4 linked regions of the Homo sapiens genome follow. The protein of the gene in region 1 interacts with the protein of each later gene in a pairwise test. Each region holds a gene or a part of one and is shown on either strand. Other genes may lie near its edges.

Evidence for each region. The genes of interacting proteins can lie anywhere in the genome.
Region 2: the proteins of SH2D4A (region 1) and FSD2 interact in binary tests that used the Homo sapiens proteins (3 or more experiments, as listed by UniProt).
Region 3: the proteins of SH2D4A (region 1) and RINT1 interact in binary tests that used the Homo sapiens proteins (3 or more experiments, as listed by UniProt).
Region 4: the proteins of SH2D4A (region 1) and TRIML2 interact in binary tests that used the Homo sapiens proteins (3 or more experiments, as listed by UniProt).

Annotation. Positions count from the first base shown.
Region 1 is NC_000008.11:19,361,362-19,366,831, reverse strand, and holds part of SH2D4A (SH2 domain-containing protein 4A), read right to left. Parts: intron 2,761-5,470; coding exon 2,550-2,760; intron 1-2,549. UniProt on the Homo sapiens protein: Inhibits estrogen-induced cell proliferation by competing with PLCG for binding to ESR1, blocking the effect of estrogen on PLCG and repressing estrogen-induced proliferation. May play a role in T-cell development and function.
Region 2 is NC_000015.10:82,757,966-82,761,817, reverse strand, and holds part of FSD2 (fibronectin type III and SPRY domain-containing protein 2), read left to right. Parts: intron 1-2,217; coding exon 2,218-2,470; 3' UTR 2,471-3,852.
Region 3 is NC_000007.14:105,564,941-105,568,177, forward strand, and holds the end of RINT1 (RAD50-interacting protein 1), read left to right. Parts: intron 1-183; exon of another isoform or gene 184-336; coding exon 337-517; exon of another isoform or gene 518-589; coding exon 590-708; intron 709-1,382; exon of another isoform or gene 1,383-2,178; coding exon 2,179-2,371; 3' UTR 2,372-2,513; coding exon of another isoform or gene 2,514-2,550; 3' UTR 2,551-2,737; downstream 2,738-3,237. Other genes in the region: EFCAB10 (EF-hand calcium-binding domain-containing protein 10), read right to left, coding at 609-675, 2,527-2,550. UniProt on the Homo sapiens protein: Involved in regulation of membrane traffic between the Golgi and the endoplasmic reticulum (ER); the function is proposed to depend on its association in the NRZ complex which is believed to play a role in SNARE assembly at the ER.
Region 4 is NC_000004.12:188,106,804-188,111,836, forward strand, and holds the start of TRIML2 (probable E3 ubiquitin-protein ligase TRIML2), read right to left. Parts: upstream 2,801-5,033; 5' UTR 2,440-2,800; intron 1-2,439.

The DNA.
Region 1 (5,470 bases):
TTCTGTGGAATCAAAAAGGTTGATCTTTTTTGTTGTTGTTGAGACAGAGTCTCACTCTGTCATCCAGGCTGGAGTGCAGTGGTGTGATCTTGGCTCACAACAGCCTTCGCCTCCTGGGTTCAAGTGATTCTCCTGCCTCAGCCTCCAGTGTAGCTGGAATTACAGGTGCACGCCACACCAGGCTTATTTTTGTATTTTTAGTAAATACGGGGTTTCACCATGTTGGTCGGGCTGGTCTCGAACTCCTGACCTCATGATCCACCCACCTCGGCCTCTCAAAGTGCTGGGATTGCAGGCATAAGCCACCACACCCAGCCAGGTTGATCTTATAGAAGTATGGAACAGTGGTTAGCAGAGGCTGGGGAGAGTAGGGGGGATGGTAAATAGGGAGAGGTTGGTCAACTGGCGCAGTTACAGTGAGACAGCAGAAATAAGTTCTGCTGCTCTACTGCACAGCACGGTAACCACAGTCAACAGTAATGTACTACATACTTCAAAACAGCCAAAAGATAGGATTTTGAATGTTCTCACCACAAAGAAATGACAAGTGTTTGAGGTGATTCATATGTGAGTTATACTGATTTGATCACTACACAATATATATATATGTATCAAAACATCACACTGTATCCCATAAATACATACAATTATTGTGTCAATTAAAAACAAAATACAATTTATGAAACACAACCACCACAATCAAGTTTCGATGAACTACTAGTATTGTAATTGACCAACTTATGGTTCTTTACGCTTTTTATAACATGTGCTTCTGAGTTACGTGTGACATACTGTCAGATATATATATATATAGTTGTACATATGCATGTATGTGTATATATTATCCCTAATGATTTTCGGAGCATTTTCGAGAAAATATCCTATAATATTTACTTCCCTGGGAGGCAGACACTGCACACATACGAAGTTATATTATACATTCTCTTACTAGCTTCCAAATTAGGCTCTTTTTTGGGAAGTCCTTGGAGATCGAGCAAAACTCCACAGACACTGTAGGAGCCGGTCTGTCTTTTCCTGGGGTGGCTCTGAGGTGACCTCTGCCATCCCTGTGTCAAGTCCCAGCCCTAAAACCACCCAGTCTGACTCACAAAAAGCACTTCATGCAGTGTCTTCAGTTGGAAAAAATGAGCTAACTGAGCACAGCTGAAAATAGGAATTGCCCTTTTTTAAAGACCACCTTCATTGCTGTCAATCAAATATACTGTCCTTCAAAATGCTGTGGGACAGGGACATCTACAAGTCATTTCCATGCTACCTTTGGAAGAGACGGTGAACAGGAGTTAGCTGCAAAAACATCCCTGCTGAGGCTCTGTCGCCAACGTGCGGACAGACAAGCTCCAGCACTTAGAGCCGTGTGCACCTTTGTCAGCTGTTCTCACAATTAAGAGACTCCTATTTCCTGACTACATTTCTTGCTTTGTTGTCGGTAAGAGAAGAATCATTACCCAAACGATCACTTTGGAGATCATGGTCTTTACTGTAATTATTTCCACTTACTCCACTGAGTTCCACGTTGGTCCCCACTTCCCGAAACGGAACTTTCCAGTAGAGTAAGTAGAAATAATTACAGCAAAGAAAAACATCCGCCTTTGTGTTTCCCCTGAGGTCATCACTCCTGTTTAAAGACAACCTTGAAGATAACTACGACTCCAAGCAGGAGAAGAGTCTTATTTTTCATTTCTCCATAATCTTAGAGAAGTATTTCAAATTATTTTTAGTTTTTATTTCAGAATGCAAGGCTTTAGACAATTCTGTTTCTTTCAATCAACATTTGATTTTAATACTTCTTTCTAAATACTAGGATGTTAAAAATAAGATCAATAACCAGAAAAAAATTTAGAATCAGCAAACATAAGGGATGGGGGTTTAATAGCATCATTGCACTTTTCTACAGTTTTTCCAGAACAAATGGTTCTTCCTAATTCTTCCACAGCCTAGCAGACAATGGTATCTCCACCACCAAATAGACAATTCATCTAAAAAAGGAGGCTTTCCAAATTCTTAAAAGAGGAACTTGGCTATGTATCCGTGAATGAGAATTACCATCAAACCTTTAATCCTTGGCAGTGAAAATGTACTCCCACTGATCACACGAAAGTCAGCAAGCCTTTGGGTTCCTACTTTGATAATCTTTGACTAAGGGTGATCTTGGGCATCAGTGAAACCCCACTTGTTTCCTCTTCTCCCCTCACTGGCTCACCGGCTGCCTCTGGGGGGGAGGGGGGCGGGGGAGGGAAAGGGGAGAGTGGGGTAGGGACACGGGAAGTTCTCTCATTCCATGCACAGCTTTACTATTTCACTGGGTATACTAAGTATAACAGCTATGGACATTTGACAGCTAAAAAAGGGAGGAATGCCCGCCCAGATCACCCAGGAAGAAGGCTTAGACATGAACCTGAGCTACTTACACAGGCTGCCAGTTGGCCCTCCACACCCCATGGCAGCTCATACAATTCCCCTTTAATTTCAACGCTTATTCAAAGCCCATTGCAATGTTTATGCATAAACCCATCTGTGTGGCTTCTTACCTAAGAGGTTTTTGAGGATATGCCCCTGAGTTTAGGAACTGAGGCTTGGGTGGAAGGGGAGGTCTTTCTGGTTTCTGCGGAACACGCAAGGGGCTTTGCAGCCTCTCACCGCCTCTTCCTTTCTGGGCCCCGAGGGATAACCTCTTGTAGTCTTCTCGTGCTTGTTTAGCCAAGGAGCGTCTCTTCTCATCAGCTGCTTTGGATTTTCGCACTGGAAAAACAACGGGGTCGGAGAAAACCCTCATCAGCCCACAGAGCAGGTGAGAAGGCTCAGCATTCATTGCACAACGGGCAGCAGCGCAGGTTCTCAGCAGTTTGTTGTCTGCTTATAATAAGGAACAATCATTATCAACACCTATGATCCAGGCCATTAGGGCTTGCCCAGCGTTCGCTGCAGGATTCCTCTCTTCATACAGGACTGGGGGTTTTCTGAGAGGGAGAGAAAAGGAAGAGGAGGAAGAAGGGATGAGAGAGAAGTAGAGAAAGTGTGCAAGAATTTCCTGCAGTTGGCAAGACCAAGTGAGGATCCCCCGCCTGAGCATGGGTTCAAGCTGGCAGGGGTGCTGAGTAATAAGAGGCAATTGTCACGCCCTGCATGACTTATGTTCAGATGCAGTGTGCTTGACTCACTAGCAGAGATCAGGACTACTCAGTGGCATGGGGCTGTGCATAGGGTGAAGGAGCAGAGAGCAGGACAGAATGAGAAGCAACCTGACAGACAAAAAATTAAAGGGATGCTTAACCACAGGTAATTGTAGGACACATTAGTACACAAAAAAGTACCCCAAGTCTGCCTTTTAATATTACAGTCACTAGTGACTTAATGAGAGAAATAAATCCTGAGAAATGCATCATAAGGCAACTGTAACACAAGAGTATTTGTGTGTCTAAATACCCCCAACATAAGGCCGGGCACAGTGGCTCATACCTGTAATACCTGCACTTTGAGAGGCCAAGGTCGGTGGGTCACCTGAGGTCAGGAGCTTGAGACTAGCCTGGCCAACATGGTGAAACCCCAACTCTACTACAAATACAAAAAATTAGCTGAGCATGGTGGCAGGCGCCTGTAATCCTAGCTACTGGGGAGGCTGAGGCGGGAGAATCCCTTGAAACCAGGAGGCGGAGGTTGCAGTGAACTGAGATCACACCATCGCACTCCAGCCTGGGTGACAAGAGCGAAACTCCATCTCAAAAAAATAAAAATAATCAATACCCCCAACATAGCAAAGGTATAGTAAAAATATGGTATAGAGGACAAAAAAAAATGGTGCCTCTACATAAGGCACTTACCATGAATGGAGCTTGCAGGACTGGAAGTTGCTCTGGGATGAGTCAGTGAGTGAGTGCTCAGTGAATGTTAAGACCTAGGACATTACTACACACTGATGTTGACTTTGTAAACACTTTACACTTAGGCTACACTACATTTATAAAATTTATTTTAAAAATGTATGCAACCCATTATTTTGGGGTTTTATTATTATTTTTTGGTTTTCTGTATGTGTGTGTCTGTGTTTTTTTTGTTTTGTTTTGTTTTGTTTTTGAGACTCAGTCTTGCTACATTGCCCAGGCTGAAGTGCAGTGGTACGATCTCGGCTCACTGCAACCTCCGCCTCCCTGGTTCAAGCAATTCTCCTGCCTCAGCCTCCTGAGTAGCTGGGACTACAGGTGTACGCCACCACAACCAGCTAATTTTTGTATTTTTAGTAGAGATGGAGTTTCACCATGTTGGCCAGGCTGGTCTTGAACTCATGACCTGAAGTGATCCACCCACCTTGGCCTCCCAAAAGGCTGGGATTACAGGAGTGAGACACAGTGCCTGGCCTAAAAACTATATGCGACCCATCGTTGACCAAAACATCATACAGCGCATGACTACTTTGTAAAACAGAATTTTTTGTTATAGCAATGAGACTCAAATGCAGAATGTAAAAATGATTTTTATTGACTATATTTACACTTCAGGCAGTATTGGTCAAATCCTGTTATACTTGACTTCAAAGAGACACCCAAAATATTCCCTTATGCTAGGATTTCAGTGCATAGTACAAAGAGCCTACTGGATCTTGCAAATATTTTCATTTCACAGTAGTTGTCATTTAAATGGCATTGGTTGTAATGGGACTGCAGATCAATGTAGGATCTCAACATCCTGCAAATATAGCCATACCTGCTGTCTTCCTCAAGCCACCTCAGGTTGATCTAGCAGTTCAGATTTCTCTGAGTCAGATGGAAACACTAATTCTTTCACAAACCTAATTCTTCTAGCATTCTGGAGCATCCTCTCCTCTGCCTTCAGTTGCATGGGCTTATTCTTCTCCTATGAGTTTTCTCACCCATTCTGCTCACTCAAATAGGAGTCAAGGCTGGGTCACAGGCAGGAGCGGGATGCTAACACATCCAGCCTGGTATTCCTGTGTGCTTCTGATTACAAAGTTAAAATGTATTCACTATCAAAAATTTAGGGGAAAAAAAATCCAAAACACAATATTAAATTACAAGAAAAACATTCAAATAAATAATCTTGAATCTCACCTTTCCAAGAAAACTAATGTTTACATGTTATTATAACCTTCCAGTTCTTTTCCTTCAGATACTTAGACATTTCTAAATAGCGAAGCTTTTCATTCTATTTCATGGTGTTTTTTCTTCCCCAAGCTAATGAGATATAAACAGTCTAAGATCATTAAACACTCTCCAAAACCTATTTTCCATAGCTATATATCATGCTATTTGATAAATTACATCATAATTTTGGTGATACAGAAATAAATGGAGAACGAGTCTGCTGTTCAAAAGTAGCCTGTAAGCATTTGAGTAATAAGTTAGTAATAACATTTGAGTGGTAACTTACTGTGAACATATCTCTCAACAACCCACATTAAGCGCTTTCTAGATTGATCACATTATTAAGGGAGAGA
Region 2 (3,852 bases), on another chromosome or scaffold:
AATGCTGGGTGCAGTGGTGTGCACCTGTAGTCCCAGCTACTCAGGAGAGTGAGGTAGGAGTATTGTTTGAGCCCTGGACTTCAAAGCCAGCTTGGGCAACATAGCAAGACCCCGTCTCTAAAAAAAAAAAAATAATAAAATAAAAAAATAAAATAAAATAAAAGAATAAAAATAAGAAGACCACACCTCACAGCAATTAGATAATCCAAACGACATGGATTTGGAACTTGGATTCAAACTCAAGCAGTCTGGTTCCAAAGATTTCATTCCTAACCACTTAAGTGATAGATTTTTCATTTCTGTTCACCTTTAGTATTAAGCCAATACAGTTTGCTTTGAAGCCCCAGTTCCATCTTTTTAAGTAAATGTGGGCAAGAGGCTTAGTAGTTATGGCTAATTCTGGTTTGCTCCTGCTGCTGGGCACTCTGTCTTTACACATGGAGTAGTTCCATATAGTGGGAAAAAAAGTCTCACGAAGCCCAGGCCAATGAATACACTTTCAGACTTAGAAGGCCATGGTTACAACCTTCCTTCACCTCAAAAACTGAAAAACAAGACCCCACACTGCTTTCCTATCACACCTTGTAAAATGGGGCCTCTGACCCTCCTTGATTTGATGAATCCTATTAATGTTCATCCAATGCTCTCTGCCCATGATCCTCTATCATGGTTATTTACACATTATGTGTCATGCCCAAGCATAAGTGGGAAAACCAACTTCCCCTCCGATAACAGATGAAGACTCTAATGAAATCTACTAAACCTCACACCCAGTTTGGGGAATCCAAGAATTACTATACACTGAGGCAGATACTTTATTTGGGGATTCTGCCTGAAGTAAGACTAAAGAGCAAAGTCTCTTCTTTAGAAAGGCAAGAACAAGGGGCAGAGTAAAACTAAGGGAGCATAAAGAAAGCCTAGAAGTCCACGTGTAGAGGGAAGAATAAAGGGGGTAAGAAGACACAATAGAAGAGGGGTGGAAACAGAAGAATGACAAAAGAAGGGCAAAAGCTACAGTCCAAGTGCTAGAGCCAAGCCAGTTTCTTACAGATGTAGGGTGTGTGTGTGTGTGTGTGTGCGTGCACGCACACACGTGCACACACGTTACAAGTGGAGAATGAAGGTAAGGTATCCTAGGATAAGGTCTCCTAGCAGACTTGCATTTTTGGCTCATAGTATTAGACTTTATTGGTGGTAGCATAGAAAGTAGAAGAAACGACTCATAGCTTCTGGCAGCTGCTTAGTTAAATTAAGGTGAAATGGGCTAGAGACAGGCAGGCTTCCTCTGACACGTTTAGATCATATTCCAAGTGTTTATCCCAGTAGCCTAGACTAGCCTGTTGACACAAAGAGCTCTTCAAATATCTGTAGGTAGCAGGGTTAGGAAATTCCTGTGACAGGTTTTCATTTCTGCCATTTTTCAAAGTACACAGGATGTAGAGCATGGATAGTGATATAGTATTGATTGGTAACAGGCCCACTGGCTCCCCACTCAATATGAAAGTTTAAGAACTGGAGTAACTGTGCATAGAAGAGCTTATACCAAGAAGCCCATTTTATCACATGGAAAATCACAAGGTTCCCTGTTTCAAATGTCTAATCCAAATTTTAAAAACATGTTCTATTCCTATGCTAGTTTAGATGAAAGAGAGTTCAGGATGCTATAGGTAAATTTCTTAGGTTAAGAGGTTGCTAGAGAAAAAATGATGTTTGAAAAATGTTTCGGCCAGAAGCAGTGGCTCACACTTGTAATCCCAGCACTTTGGGAGGCCAAGGCAAGTGGACTGCCTGAGCTCAGGAGTTCGAGACCAGCCTGGGCAACACAGTGAAACCCTGTCTCTACTAAAAATACAAAAATTAGCCGGGCTTGGTGGTGCACGCCTGTAATCCCAGCTACTCAGGAGGCTAAGGTGGGAGAATTGCTTGAACCCAGGAGGCTGAGGTTGCAGTGAGCCGAGATTGCACCACTGCACTCCAGCCTGGGTGACAGAGCAAGACTCCATCTAAAAAAAAAAAAGAAAATGTTTCTTAGGACAAATTTTAGAAAAGAGATAGTTTAGAGAGTATAGTTTTAGAAATGGCTTGTCACCTTGGTAGTCATTTAATACTAGAAAATAGCAAAATCATAGGACTATGAATAAAATTAGTATGAAATGTTCTATAAATAGTCAATCTATAGAATTACTGAAACTTTATTATGTCAAATTTAATTTTCAGGCATAAGTATGAATTTCTGCACAACAGAACAACTCCAGATATAAGAATAACAGTTCCACCAAAGAAGATTGGCATTCTATTAGACTATGAACATTCAAAGTTGTCATTTTTCAATGTGGACCTTTCTCAGCATCTATATACATTTAGTTGTCAGCTTCACGAATTTGTGCATCCCTGTTTTTCTTTGGAAAAGCCTGGGTGTCTAAAGGTACATAATGGCATTTCAATGCCAAAACATGTCACTTTCTATTAGAACATTCTGATGTCCAGTTTCCTGTCTTCCATGCCTACCCCTCTCGCAGCTGCTCACGCCTTAGCTGGCTGAACCTGGCACTTAAGCACCATGTGCCCAGCACAATTTATGGCTCATGCTATTATCTGACTGGTGTGCTAGCGCTCATTTCACCCAACCTGGATTCTAGTCCTGTGTGCTGCTACCTGTGTGCTGCTAGGATAGTCATTACCAGGCCCAGCTGTAAAATAAAGGCTCAGACTAAACGAACTCAAAAGTCTTTGAAGCTGTCAAACTATATTCGTGTATATGCAAAATATCTTGAGTTTCCAAGACCTAGAGAGCTTGGGAGAGGACGAGGGTAGTCTTAATGGCTCCAGCAGCACCAGTACACCCATGCATTTCATGAGTCAGCCAAGAATACACTTGAGAAGGCGAGAGGCTGTCTGTAGAGAACCAGGGAAGCTGTGTGCCCTTCTCAATGTCTTCTACCCTCGTTTTCCCAATAGTGAGCAGCACTGTGGTGAGGTCCCTTCCACTGTGTACTCTGCATACAGGGTATTCCCTGTTCCACTCCTACACAGTATGCACCACTCTCTAATTTTGAAATTACCTCTATAATGCCTAATTCCATGAAGGGAGGGACAGTGCCTGTTTTGTTCATTGCTAGATCACCAAGGGCTAACACATAACAGCTGTCACCAAGTATTTGTTGAATAAATTAGTATCTTCTTCAGCCACTGCTCTTTGGCCTCTTACTGCTCTCCATGTGAAGGATGGCAGGGCTCTTTCAAAACTACAGCAAAGGACCTATGGCCAAGAAATGGGAAAAAACCTAGAATGGAGGCAGCGTGAAAGAACAGAAGGGCATCTGTGGCATATTAGCAAATGCACAACAATTTTTTAAAAGAAATTAACAGCCCACCAAAGGGCAAAGCTGAGCACGGGAAGGAAGACTGATCTCTAGCTAGGCAGCTTTCAGGCATCCTGCCTCACTGCCCCCAGGCCATTCTGTGAGCTCAATGCCCAACTCCATCAGCTACATTCCTGGTTCTCCTGTTCAAGTTTCCAGTTGCCACTTAAGCTCTGCACACACAGCATTTTCAAAGCTTGTGAGTGAAGCTGCAGAATAATTCCATTTGTGAAGCAATTACAATTCAGTATCATGTCCCACAGATGCCTCTAAACCCAGATATGCCCTAATCTCATCATTTAAGGTTTTGTGTTTAAAAAAAAAAAGTCCACTTTTCTTTTTTCTGGCGAAACCCCGTCTCTACTAAAAATACAAAAAATTAGCCGGGCATGGTGGTGGGCGCCTGTAATCCCAGCTACTCAGGAGGCTGAGGCAGGAGAATTGCTTGAACCCGGGGGCAGAGGCTGCAGTGAGCCGAGATTGTGCCACT
Region 3 (3,237 bases), on another chromosome or scaffold:
CCAACAGAGCGAGACTCTGTCTCAAAAAAAAAGAAAAACTACATAAATAAAATGCAAAAATTAAGTGACATTTTAAATTGTAATTGCCTTATATCAGTAATTCACATATTAAAATTTGGGGATATTTTGGATATATCCCCATATTAAAGAGTATTTGAGAGTGAAAATATAAATACAGGTACATTTATTTTCTGATAGAGCTTTTAATGTTAGGCTGTATATTTTTTCTTATCCAAAATGCCCTAGGACAGAACACTTCCTCAAATTTAAAATGATTTAAAAACTTGAAAAATAGAAACTGATGAAAATTTTTTGGTAAAAATGTGTTTTTTCCAGATGGTTGTCCTTGCCATCTCAGTCAGAGCAGGCAGTGATGTCCCTGTCCAGTTCGGCTTGCCCGTTGCTGCTGACGTTACGAGACCATTTACTTCAGTTGGAGCAGCAGCTTTGTTTCTCCTTATTTAAAATTTTCTGGCAAATGCTTGTAGAGAAGCTGGATGTATACATCTACCAAGAAGTAAGTAAGAATAGACTGTTTTTGGGCTGTGATAATAAAGACAACTGTTATATGAATTATTCTTTGTTTCAGATAATTCTTGCTAATCACTTCAATGAAGGAGGAGCAGCCCAGCTGCAGTTTGATATGACTCGGAATCTTTTCCCTTTGTTTTCTCACTATTGCAAGAGACCAGAAAATTATTTTAAACAGTAAGCTCAACATTTAACAATTAATATTAATGTATCAAATTGTTACAGGAGGCTAACTCCTTTTAACTTTAGGGTTCTGGAGATGTTTGGGTGGGATAAGATCAGTTGAAATTTTAAAACATTGTCTATCTACTGTATGCTTACAGCACAATGGGGAAACCAAGATGATAGATGTGACCCATGACCTCAAAAAGTTTCAGAACTAGATATAAATTACCTGTTGGGTTTTGTTTTCTAGTATTTGGTTTAATGCTTCTAGTTGCTTAGTTACTGGAGGAATAAATAGAAAATGAAAACAAGTACAGTTGTGCCCTATTCACTAAATATAAGAAATTACAGGGCCGGGCGTGGTGGCTCACGCCTGTAATCCCAACACTTCGGGAGGCTGAGTTGGGCAGATCACAAAGTCAGGAGATCGAGACCATCCTGGCTAACATAGTGATACCCCCATCTCTACTAAAAATACCAAAAAAAAAAAAATTAGCCAGGCCTGGTGGCGGGCACCTGTAGTCCCACCTGCTTGGGAGGCTGAGGCAGGAGAATGATGTGAACCCGGGAGGCGGAGCTTGCAGTGAGCCAAGACTGTCTCAAAAAAAAAAAAAAATTACAAATATGTTTAATACCTAATAGGCCAGGCCTGAAAGAAATTTGTTTCCTTAAACATTTGACATTAATTTTGGTTCTAAATATAATTATAGTTTCAGAATTTGTTGATCTAAAATTTATAGGCCAGGCATAGTAGCCCACATCTGTAATCCCAGTACTTTGGGAGGCAGAGGTGGGAGAATTGCTTGAGGCCAGCTGTTTGAGACCAGCCTGGGCAACATAGCAAGACTCCATCTCTACAGAAAGTATTAAAATGAACAAACAAAAAAAAGCCAGGTGTGGGGGTGTGGACCTGTAGTCCTAGCTACTTGAGAGGCTGAGGCTGTAGTGAGCTATGATCGTGCAGTTTCACTCCAGCCTAGGTGACAGAGCAAGACCATGTCTCAAAAAAAAAAAGTAAAATTTAAATTATGTTTGGGTTTTGTGAGGTTATAAAGCATTCCTTTTAGACTTATAAAATGAAAGCTTATGTTTACACGTTTCATAGGACTGTTTTTAAAATTTATTTTAATGTTCTTTCTGCTGCTTTCATTTATCTCTTATTTTTGTCTTTTCCCATGTTCTAATCTACCTAAAGTTATAGCTATATTTAATATAGTGTTAATATTAAGTATTGTATTTAGGGAAATAACGGATACATATTGAAATAGGGATCGTATTACCTTATAGTAATCTAAAGAAATAGCAACTCTGCACCTGTGTAGTCTTACCATGTTAAAAGAACCAAATAATAAATCCATAAATATTTTTATAGAGAACATGTGGACCAGCAGTGCAGAGAAGCTGTTTAGGATTCTCAAAATTGTAATATAATTGATGCAGATAATGGAGATCTCATTTCCCTCCTTTGTTTTCCCTAAACAGTATAAAAGAAGCCTGTATTGTTTTGAATTTGAACGTCGGTTCTGCACTACTGCTGAAAGATGTACTGCAGTCAGCTTCAGGGCAGCTTCCTGCCACAGCAGCATTAAATGAAGTTGGAATTTACAAACTGGCTCAACAAGATGTTGAGATTCTACTTAATTTGAGGACAAATTGGCCTAATACTGGAAAATAATGTCTTTCAGAAAAAGGTTTCTTTGGTTTTTGTTTCTAAGAAAGAGGAAGCCAATTGGATTTCAAGTTATATGATGAAATTCTGAATTAATGAAACTGGAAAACTTTATAGAATTACTTATTATCTTGGATTTATGGTGTTATTAAAATGCTGACCATATTTCCTTCATCCTCTTGTTCCTAAGGAAACAAAAACAGAAAACGAAACAATGAAAACTCAATTCTATTTACAAGTATAAATGCTGAGTATGTCTGTTGAAGACGAGCAGAGATATTAAATTATAACCAACTTTCAATTTCCTGTGCTAATTAAGGGAAATTCTGTTGTGGATAATCAAACATAGCCAATAAATTTTTTTAAAACTCCCTTTGAATGCATATTTGTAATTGAGGCACCTGTATCTAGTTTGGGAATTAACTGTATTTCCATGAGGAAACTGGCAGGGCACAGTGTCTCATGCCTGTAATCCCAGCACTTTGGGAGGCTGAGGTAGGAGGATTGCTTGAGGCAGGAGTGCGAAAACATCCTGGCCAACATGTCAAGACCCTGATGCATGCCTGTAGTTCTAGCTACTTGGGAGGCTGAGGTGGGAGGCTAGCTTGAGCCCAGGAGGTCAAGACTACAGTGAGCTCTGATTGTGACACGGCACAGCAGCCTGGGCAAGCGAACAAGACCCTGTCTCTAAAGAACAAAACAAAACACATTGTGAGATGGTGAATAAGATAGGATTGTTCTTCATTTCTCACAAATGCCCTTCTATTTTAAATGCTTCCTAGTTTCATTCTGTGTGACAGTGGGCAACCCTTTCTTTCTGGATGAAACATTTCAGGCCATGGCACTCTGACTCAAACATTCCCATGTGGTAG
Region 4 (5,033 bases), on another chromosome or scaffold:
CTCTTGCTAAGGTGGCCAAGCGAGAAGACAGGCCGGGCTGAGCCGCGGGTGCGGTACCACCGGCGCTTTGTCGACGTTGTGCCCATCTTTGGCAAGAAGAAGGGCCCCAATGTCCTTCTTAAGTCCTTTGTAATTCTGGCTTTCTCTATTAAAAAAGCCACTTAGCTCGAAAACTTTTTTCTCAGAAAAATGTTTTTGTTTTTATTATTTTATTAACTTATTTATTTATTTTTGAGACCGAATCTCTGTCGCCCAGGCTGGAGCACAGTGGCACGATCTCAGCTCACTGCAACCTCCGCCTCCCGGGTTCAACCGACTCTCCTGCCTCAGCCTCCCGAGTAGCTGGGACTACAGGCGCGTGAAACCACACCCAGCTAATTTTTTGTATTTTTAGTAGAGACGGGGTTTCACCGTGTTGGCCACACTGATCTGGAACTCCTGACCTCAGGTTATCTGCCCGCCTCAGCCTCAGTGCTGGGATTACAGGTGTGACCCACCGTGCCTGGCTTGTTTTTATTATTTTAAATGAATAACTATAAAATGCAGTTTTAAATTTCTAATACAGTAAACATAGATATTAACGCTCATAAACAAAAGCTTATTGGGATCTTCGTCAATAATGAGTGCAAAGGAGTACTGATTCCAAAAAGTTGAGAATCTTGGCCTGAAAAGGCATATTCCCCACAAATAGGACTGTGAATGAATGCATCCATAATTTTGATATGTTTTGTCAGTTTCCCAAGCACAAAAGTTGTACAATTTTGCACTCCAAGCAACAAATTAAAAAGATGTTAAACTTTTGGATCATTGCCCACTGGCTGGGTGAGAAATAGTGTATTCATATATTTTCAACTTCCATCTGTTATATTATTAATATGTCTAAGCCTTTTATTTTCATATGCTAAAAAACCATTTTCACTTCTTTTGCTGTGAAGTCTATGTTCAAGCCTCTCTCTCAGTTTATTCCATCAGGTTTGGCCTTTTTGGAGGGAGGGGTCAATTTTAAGAGAGAGCTATAGATCCAAGTTCCTGTAAATTGTGTGAGTTGCAAATACTTTCTCCCTCCTTCCTTGTTTTTGATGCTCTCATCCTTTCTTCTGCTTAGGTCTTTGAAATCCCTGCTGGTTTCCCGTGTCTTAGGTCCCTGAACATGTCCGAGATGACTCCACTGAGTCACCAAAACAAAGAAATTCACCAACTCAAATTTTTCCTTGAGCTCTCAGCAGCAGTTAACATAGCTGACCACACCCTTCTTCCTAGAATGTTTTCTTCTCTCATCTGTCTGCAGCTGACATTCCTCTAACTTGTCTGGTCTTGTTCTCCGTGGCCTTTTCTGGTCCCACATCCTCTGAACCTCTCAATCTTGGGGTGCTTCAAGGTTGAGTTCTGGTCTCCCAGTCCTGGTCTCTCCCTAGGTAATCTTACTCGTTTCTGAAGATTTAAGTTCCATTCTCCGATTTCAATCTCCTGCCCAATTCCCAACATTTTTGCAATAGAATGTCTAAGGAGCACTCAAAATTAACATATCTAAAGCCGCTCAGGATCTCAACCCAGTGGCTCTCTTCCCCCAAACTCATTCCTTTAGAGCCACAGTTTAAGCCTTCCTTTCACCAATTCAACTATTGTTTTCCAAATTTATATTCTGTCCTGCCCTCCTCGTCCATCTCCAGCTCCTCTCTGCTCAACCACCAGAATACTATTTTAAAACCAAAACCAAGTGAGCAGGTTTGTGGTCACTTTCTATGGCATTAGAGTAAGATCGAAGTGGGTAATAACCCCGTCCTATACAATCTGGCCTCCTGCCTTCTTCTGATCTCTCTATAGCTTTCCCCCATCACTGTCAATCTAGCTGCCTCTAATTCATCACAGCCCTTCCCCCTTCCGTGGCCAACAGAGCTCTTCTCTCATATTTTTGCAATTCCAGCTGCCTCTTCTTTCTTCTCTTCAGTTCTCAGCTCAAATGTCTTCCCAAGAGAGACCTTTCCATCACTACTCAATTTGAAATACCTTCCCACTACTCATCTCCTTATTTTATTTTCTTAGTAGCGAAAAGATTTTATCTTTCTATGAACAAGTTTACTTGTGGGTCACTCTCCATCCATAAGAAACTAAGTCCTTGAGATGCCCTGTGTCTACATCTGACATACTCGATGCACAATAAATATTGTAAACGATATTTTATGTTAAACCAGTAAAAATTGAAGGTGTAATGAGAGAGGGACAGAGACTAAATATTTTTACAGAAACAGCAAAGGAAAATTGACGAATTAAGTCCCCAGCATGTTGTCTACCCTTATTTTGTTTTTCCTAATATTTTTCTTCAGGCTTTTTCCTGATAACACACAGATACACACACACACACATAGATTCTAAGATCAAGTTTAGAAATCTAAAGAAACAATTATTAAGAAAATGATCTATAGAGAAAATCTCACTTACTTTCTTTGTAGCAATCCTGGGTATTTCCTTTTTTTTTTTTTTTTTTTTTTTTGAGACAGGGTCTTGCTCTGTCACCCAGGCTGGAATGCAGTGGCGCAATCTCGGCTCACTACAGCCTCGAGCTCCCAGGCTCAAGTGATTCTCCCACCTTGACCTCCTGAGTAGCTGGGATTACAGGCGCTGCACGACCACACCCGGCTAATTTTTGTATTTTTTGTAGAGACGGGGTTTCAGTATTTTTCCCAGGCTGGTCTTGAACTCCTGGGCTCAAGCAATCTGCCTGCTTCAGCCTCCCAAAGTACTGGGATTACAGGAATGAGTCACCACACCGAACCAAGGTATTTCCTTTAGGGAAAAAGCTGGAACAGTGGAGACTGAAGAGATTTTATCTGTTCAATTCCTCCCTCAGCCCCGCCCTCACACCATCAGGAAGGCGTCTGTGAAGTTTCTTATCATATTCACACAATTAATCTCATTAGAACCACCTGAGTTTATTAAAACGCAAGCCTCTTCACAGGGTCTCTGATTCCAGAAATCTACGGTGGGGTCCGTAATTTACATTTTTAATGGACTCCCAGAAAATGCTTAATAGCCCTGACCTTGGTTGGATAAATATCTTGTTTTATCTCCAGTGCCATGTACAGTGCCTAACACCTCTAGCTCCTTAAGGTTTGGGGTTTTCTTTCTTAATGAATCTAGTGTATATTGACAATTTCACAGGAAAGAAGCCTTCGAGCTAACACTCAAGACTGTGTTTGTTCCTTAGTAGAAAATAATGCCTGACTTGTTAGTTTCTAGAACGTTTGCTGGAGAAGTGTTCATTCCAGTATCTGTGGAAAGAAAAACCAAGAGTAGGGATAACTGCCTATGGAATCTGTCACAGATGGGAGGTCAGGGAACAATCCCAGATAATTCATACTTGATATTTGGCTTCAGTGAGGAGGAACTCTTCACAGCTTTCTAAGTTTTATAGTTTTGTCCCCGAGGGTTTTTATTGCATCAGTCAGTCAATCCCCTGCTAATCAAACCAGGGAGTTTTTTTCTTTATGCTGCTGACAGGATAATGAGAATTCTTCTGCTTTGCTTATCTGATCTTTCAGAACCTGGTTCTACCTTATGGAATCTCAATACACCGTTTCTCTTTTTCTTTTTTCTTTCTTTTTTTTTTTTTTTAGATGAGAGTCTCACTCTGTTGCCTAGGCTGGAGTGCGGTGGAGCGATCTCGGCTCACTGCAGCCTCCGCCTCCCAGGTTCAAGCAATTTTCCCACTTCAGCCTCCCGAGTAGCTGGGATTATAGGCGCCCACCACACCCAGCTAATTTTTGTATTTTTAGTGGAGATGGGGTTTCACCATGTTGGCCAGGCTGGTCTCAAACTCCTGACCTCAGGTGACCCACCCTCCTTGGCCTCCAAAAGTTCTGGCCACCGCGCCTGGCCATACACCCTTTCTCTTATCTCAGATGATTACCTACACCCACTCTCTTTTCCAAAACCCAATTCCCCAGCTTTCTTCAAATAGACCACATTTATTCCTGTGCCCCCTCCCCTCCTCAGCCAGTCCATCCTCCTTTACTTCTCTTATTTTTCTAATCCAATCTTCCTTTCTCTTCTAAGCCTGGGTACGGCCAACGTCTGTGAAGATACTCACACATACTTGTTGTCAGATACTCTGTCATTTACTCTCACCATCCCTTGAGCTTTCATAACTCTTGAGCTTACTCATCTTGACAAGAAAACTTTGTAATCTTTGAATCAAATGGAAAATAAACATCAAGCATATTGTCAGGTTTTGAAGTCTCTTAAAGCCTGTTTTAGAGTATTAAATGCTTAAATAAATACTTATTAAAGCCTGTTTTACTATTAAATAAATATTTATTAATAATTAAATTATTAATTCTAGAAGAGTCAATATTTTAAGATAATTCTAAAAACATTACAAAAAAGTGTGCTAAACCCTTATTTACTGTTACATGCCCCACCTGTTGCATGCTCCAACCCCGTGAGGTACATCTGCAGCTGATGAAGTAGATGACGTAGAGATTAAGTCACGGGATTAAGTAATTGACCAAGAGCACTGGGTGCAGAAAATTGAAGATATGGAATTTGAATCGGGTGCCAAATTTCATGATATTTCCTTATTATAATTATTTGTCCTTATTAAATATTAATCAAATGGCTTGACAATTTACAAAAAAGATGCCTCAAATTTGTATGACAATTTATCACGAGATGCTTTCATAGGGCTAGAGTAATCACATTACAAGGAACACAGATCATTTTAAGGTAGTTAGATTTTTCATAGGAAAACTTTTCATTAAAATGAAAATCCTGAAGAAATGTAGTTTTTTTTCACTGTCAAAGAACAAATACAATTATGAATGAGTGAGTCATTGTTCTCCTGAGTCATTTCATGAACTTATAACAGTCGTATCCCAGCCGGGCACTCTGGCTCATGCCTGTATCCCCAGCACTTTGGGTGACCGAGGCGGGTGGATCACTTGAGGTCAGGAGTTCGAGACCAGCCTGGCCAACATGGGAAACCTCATCTCTACTAAAAATACAAAAATTAGCCGGAAATTGCTTGAACCCAGGAG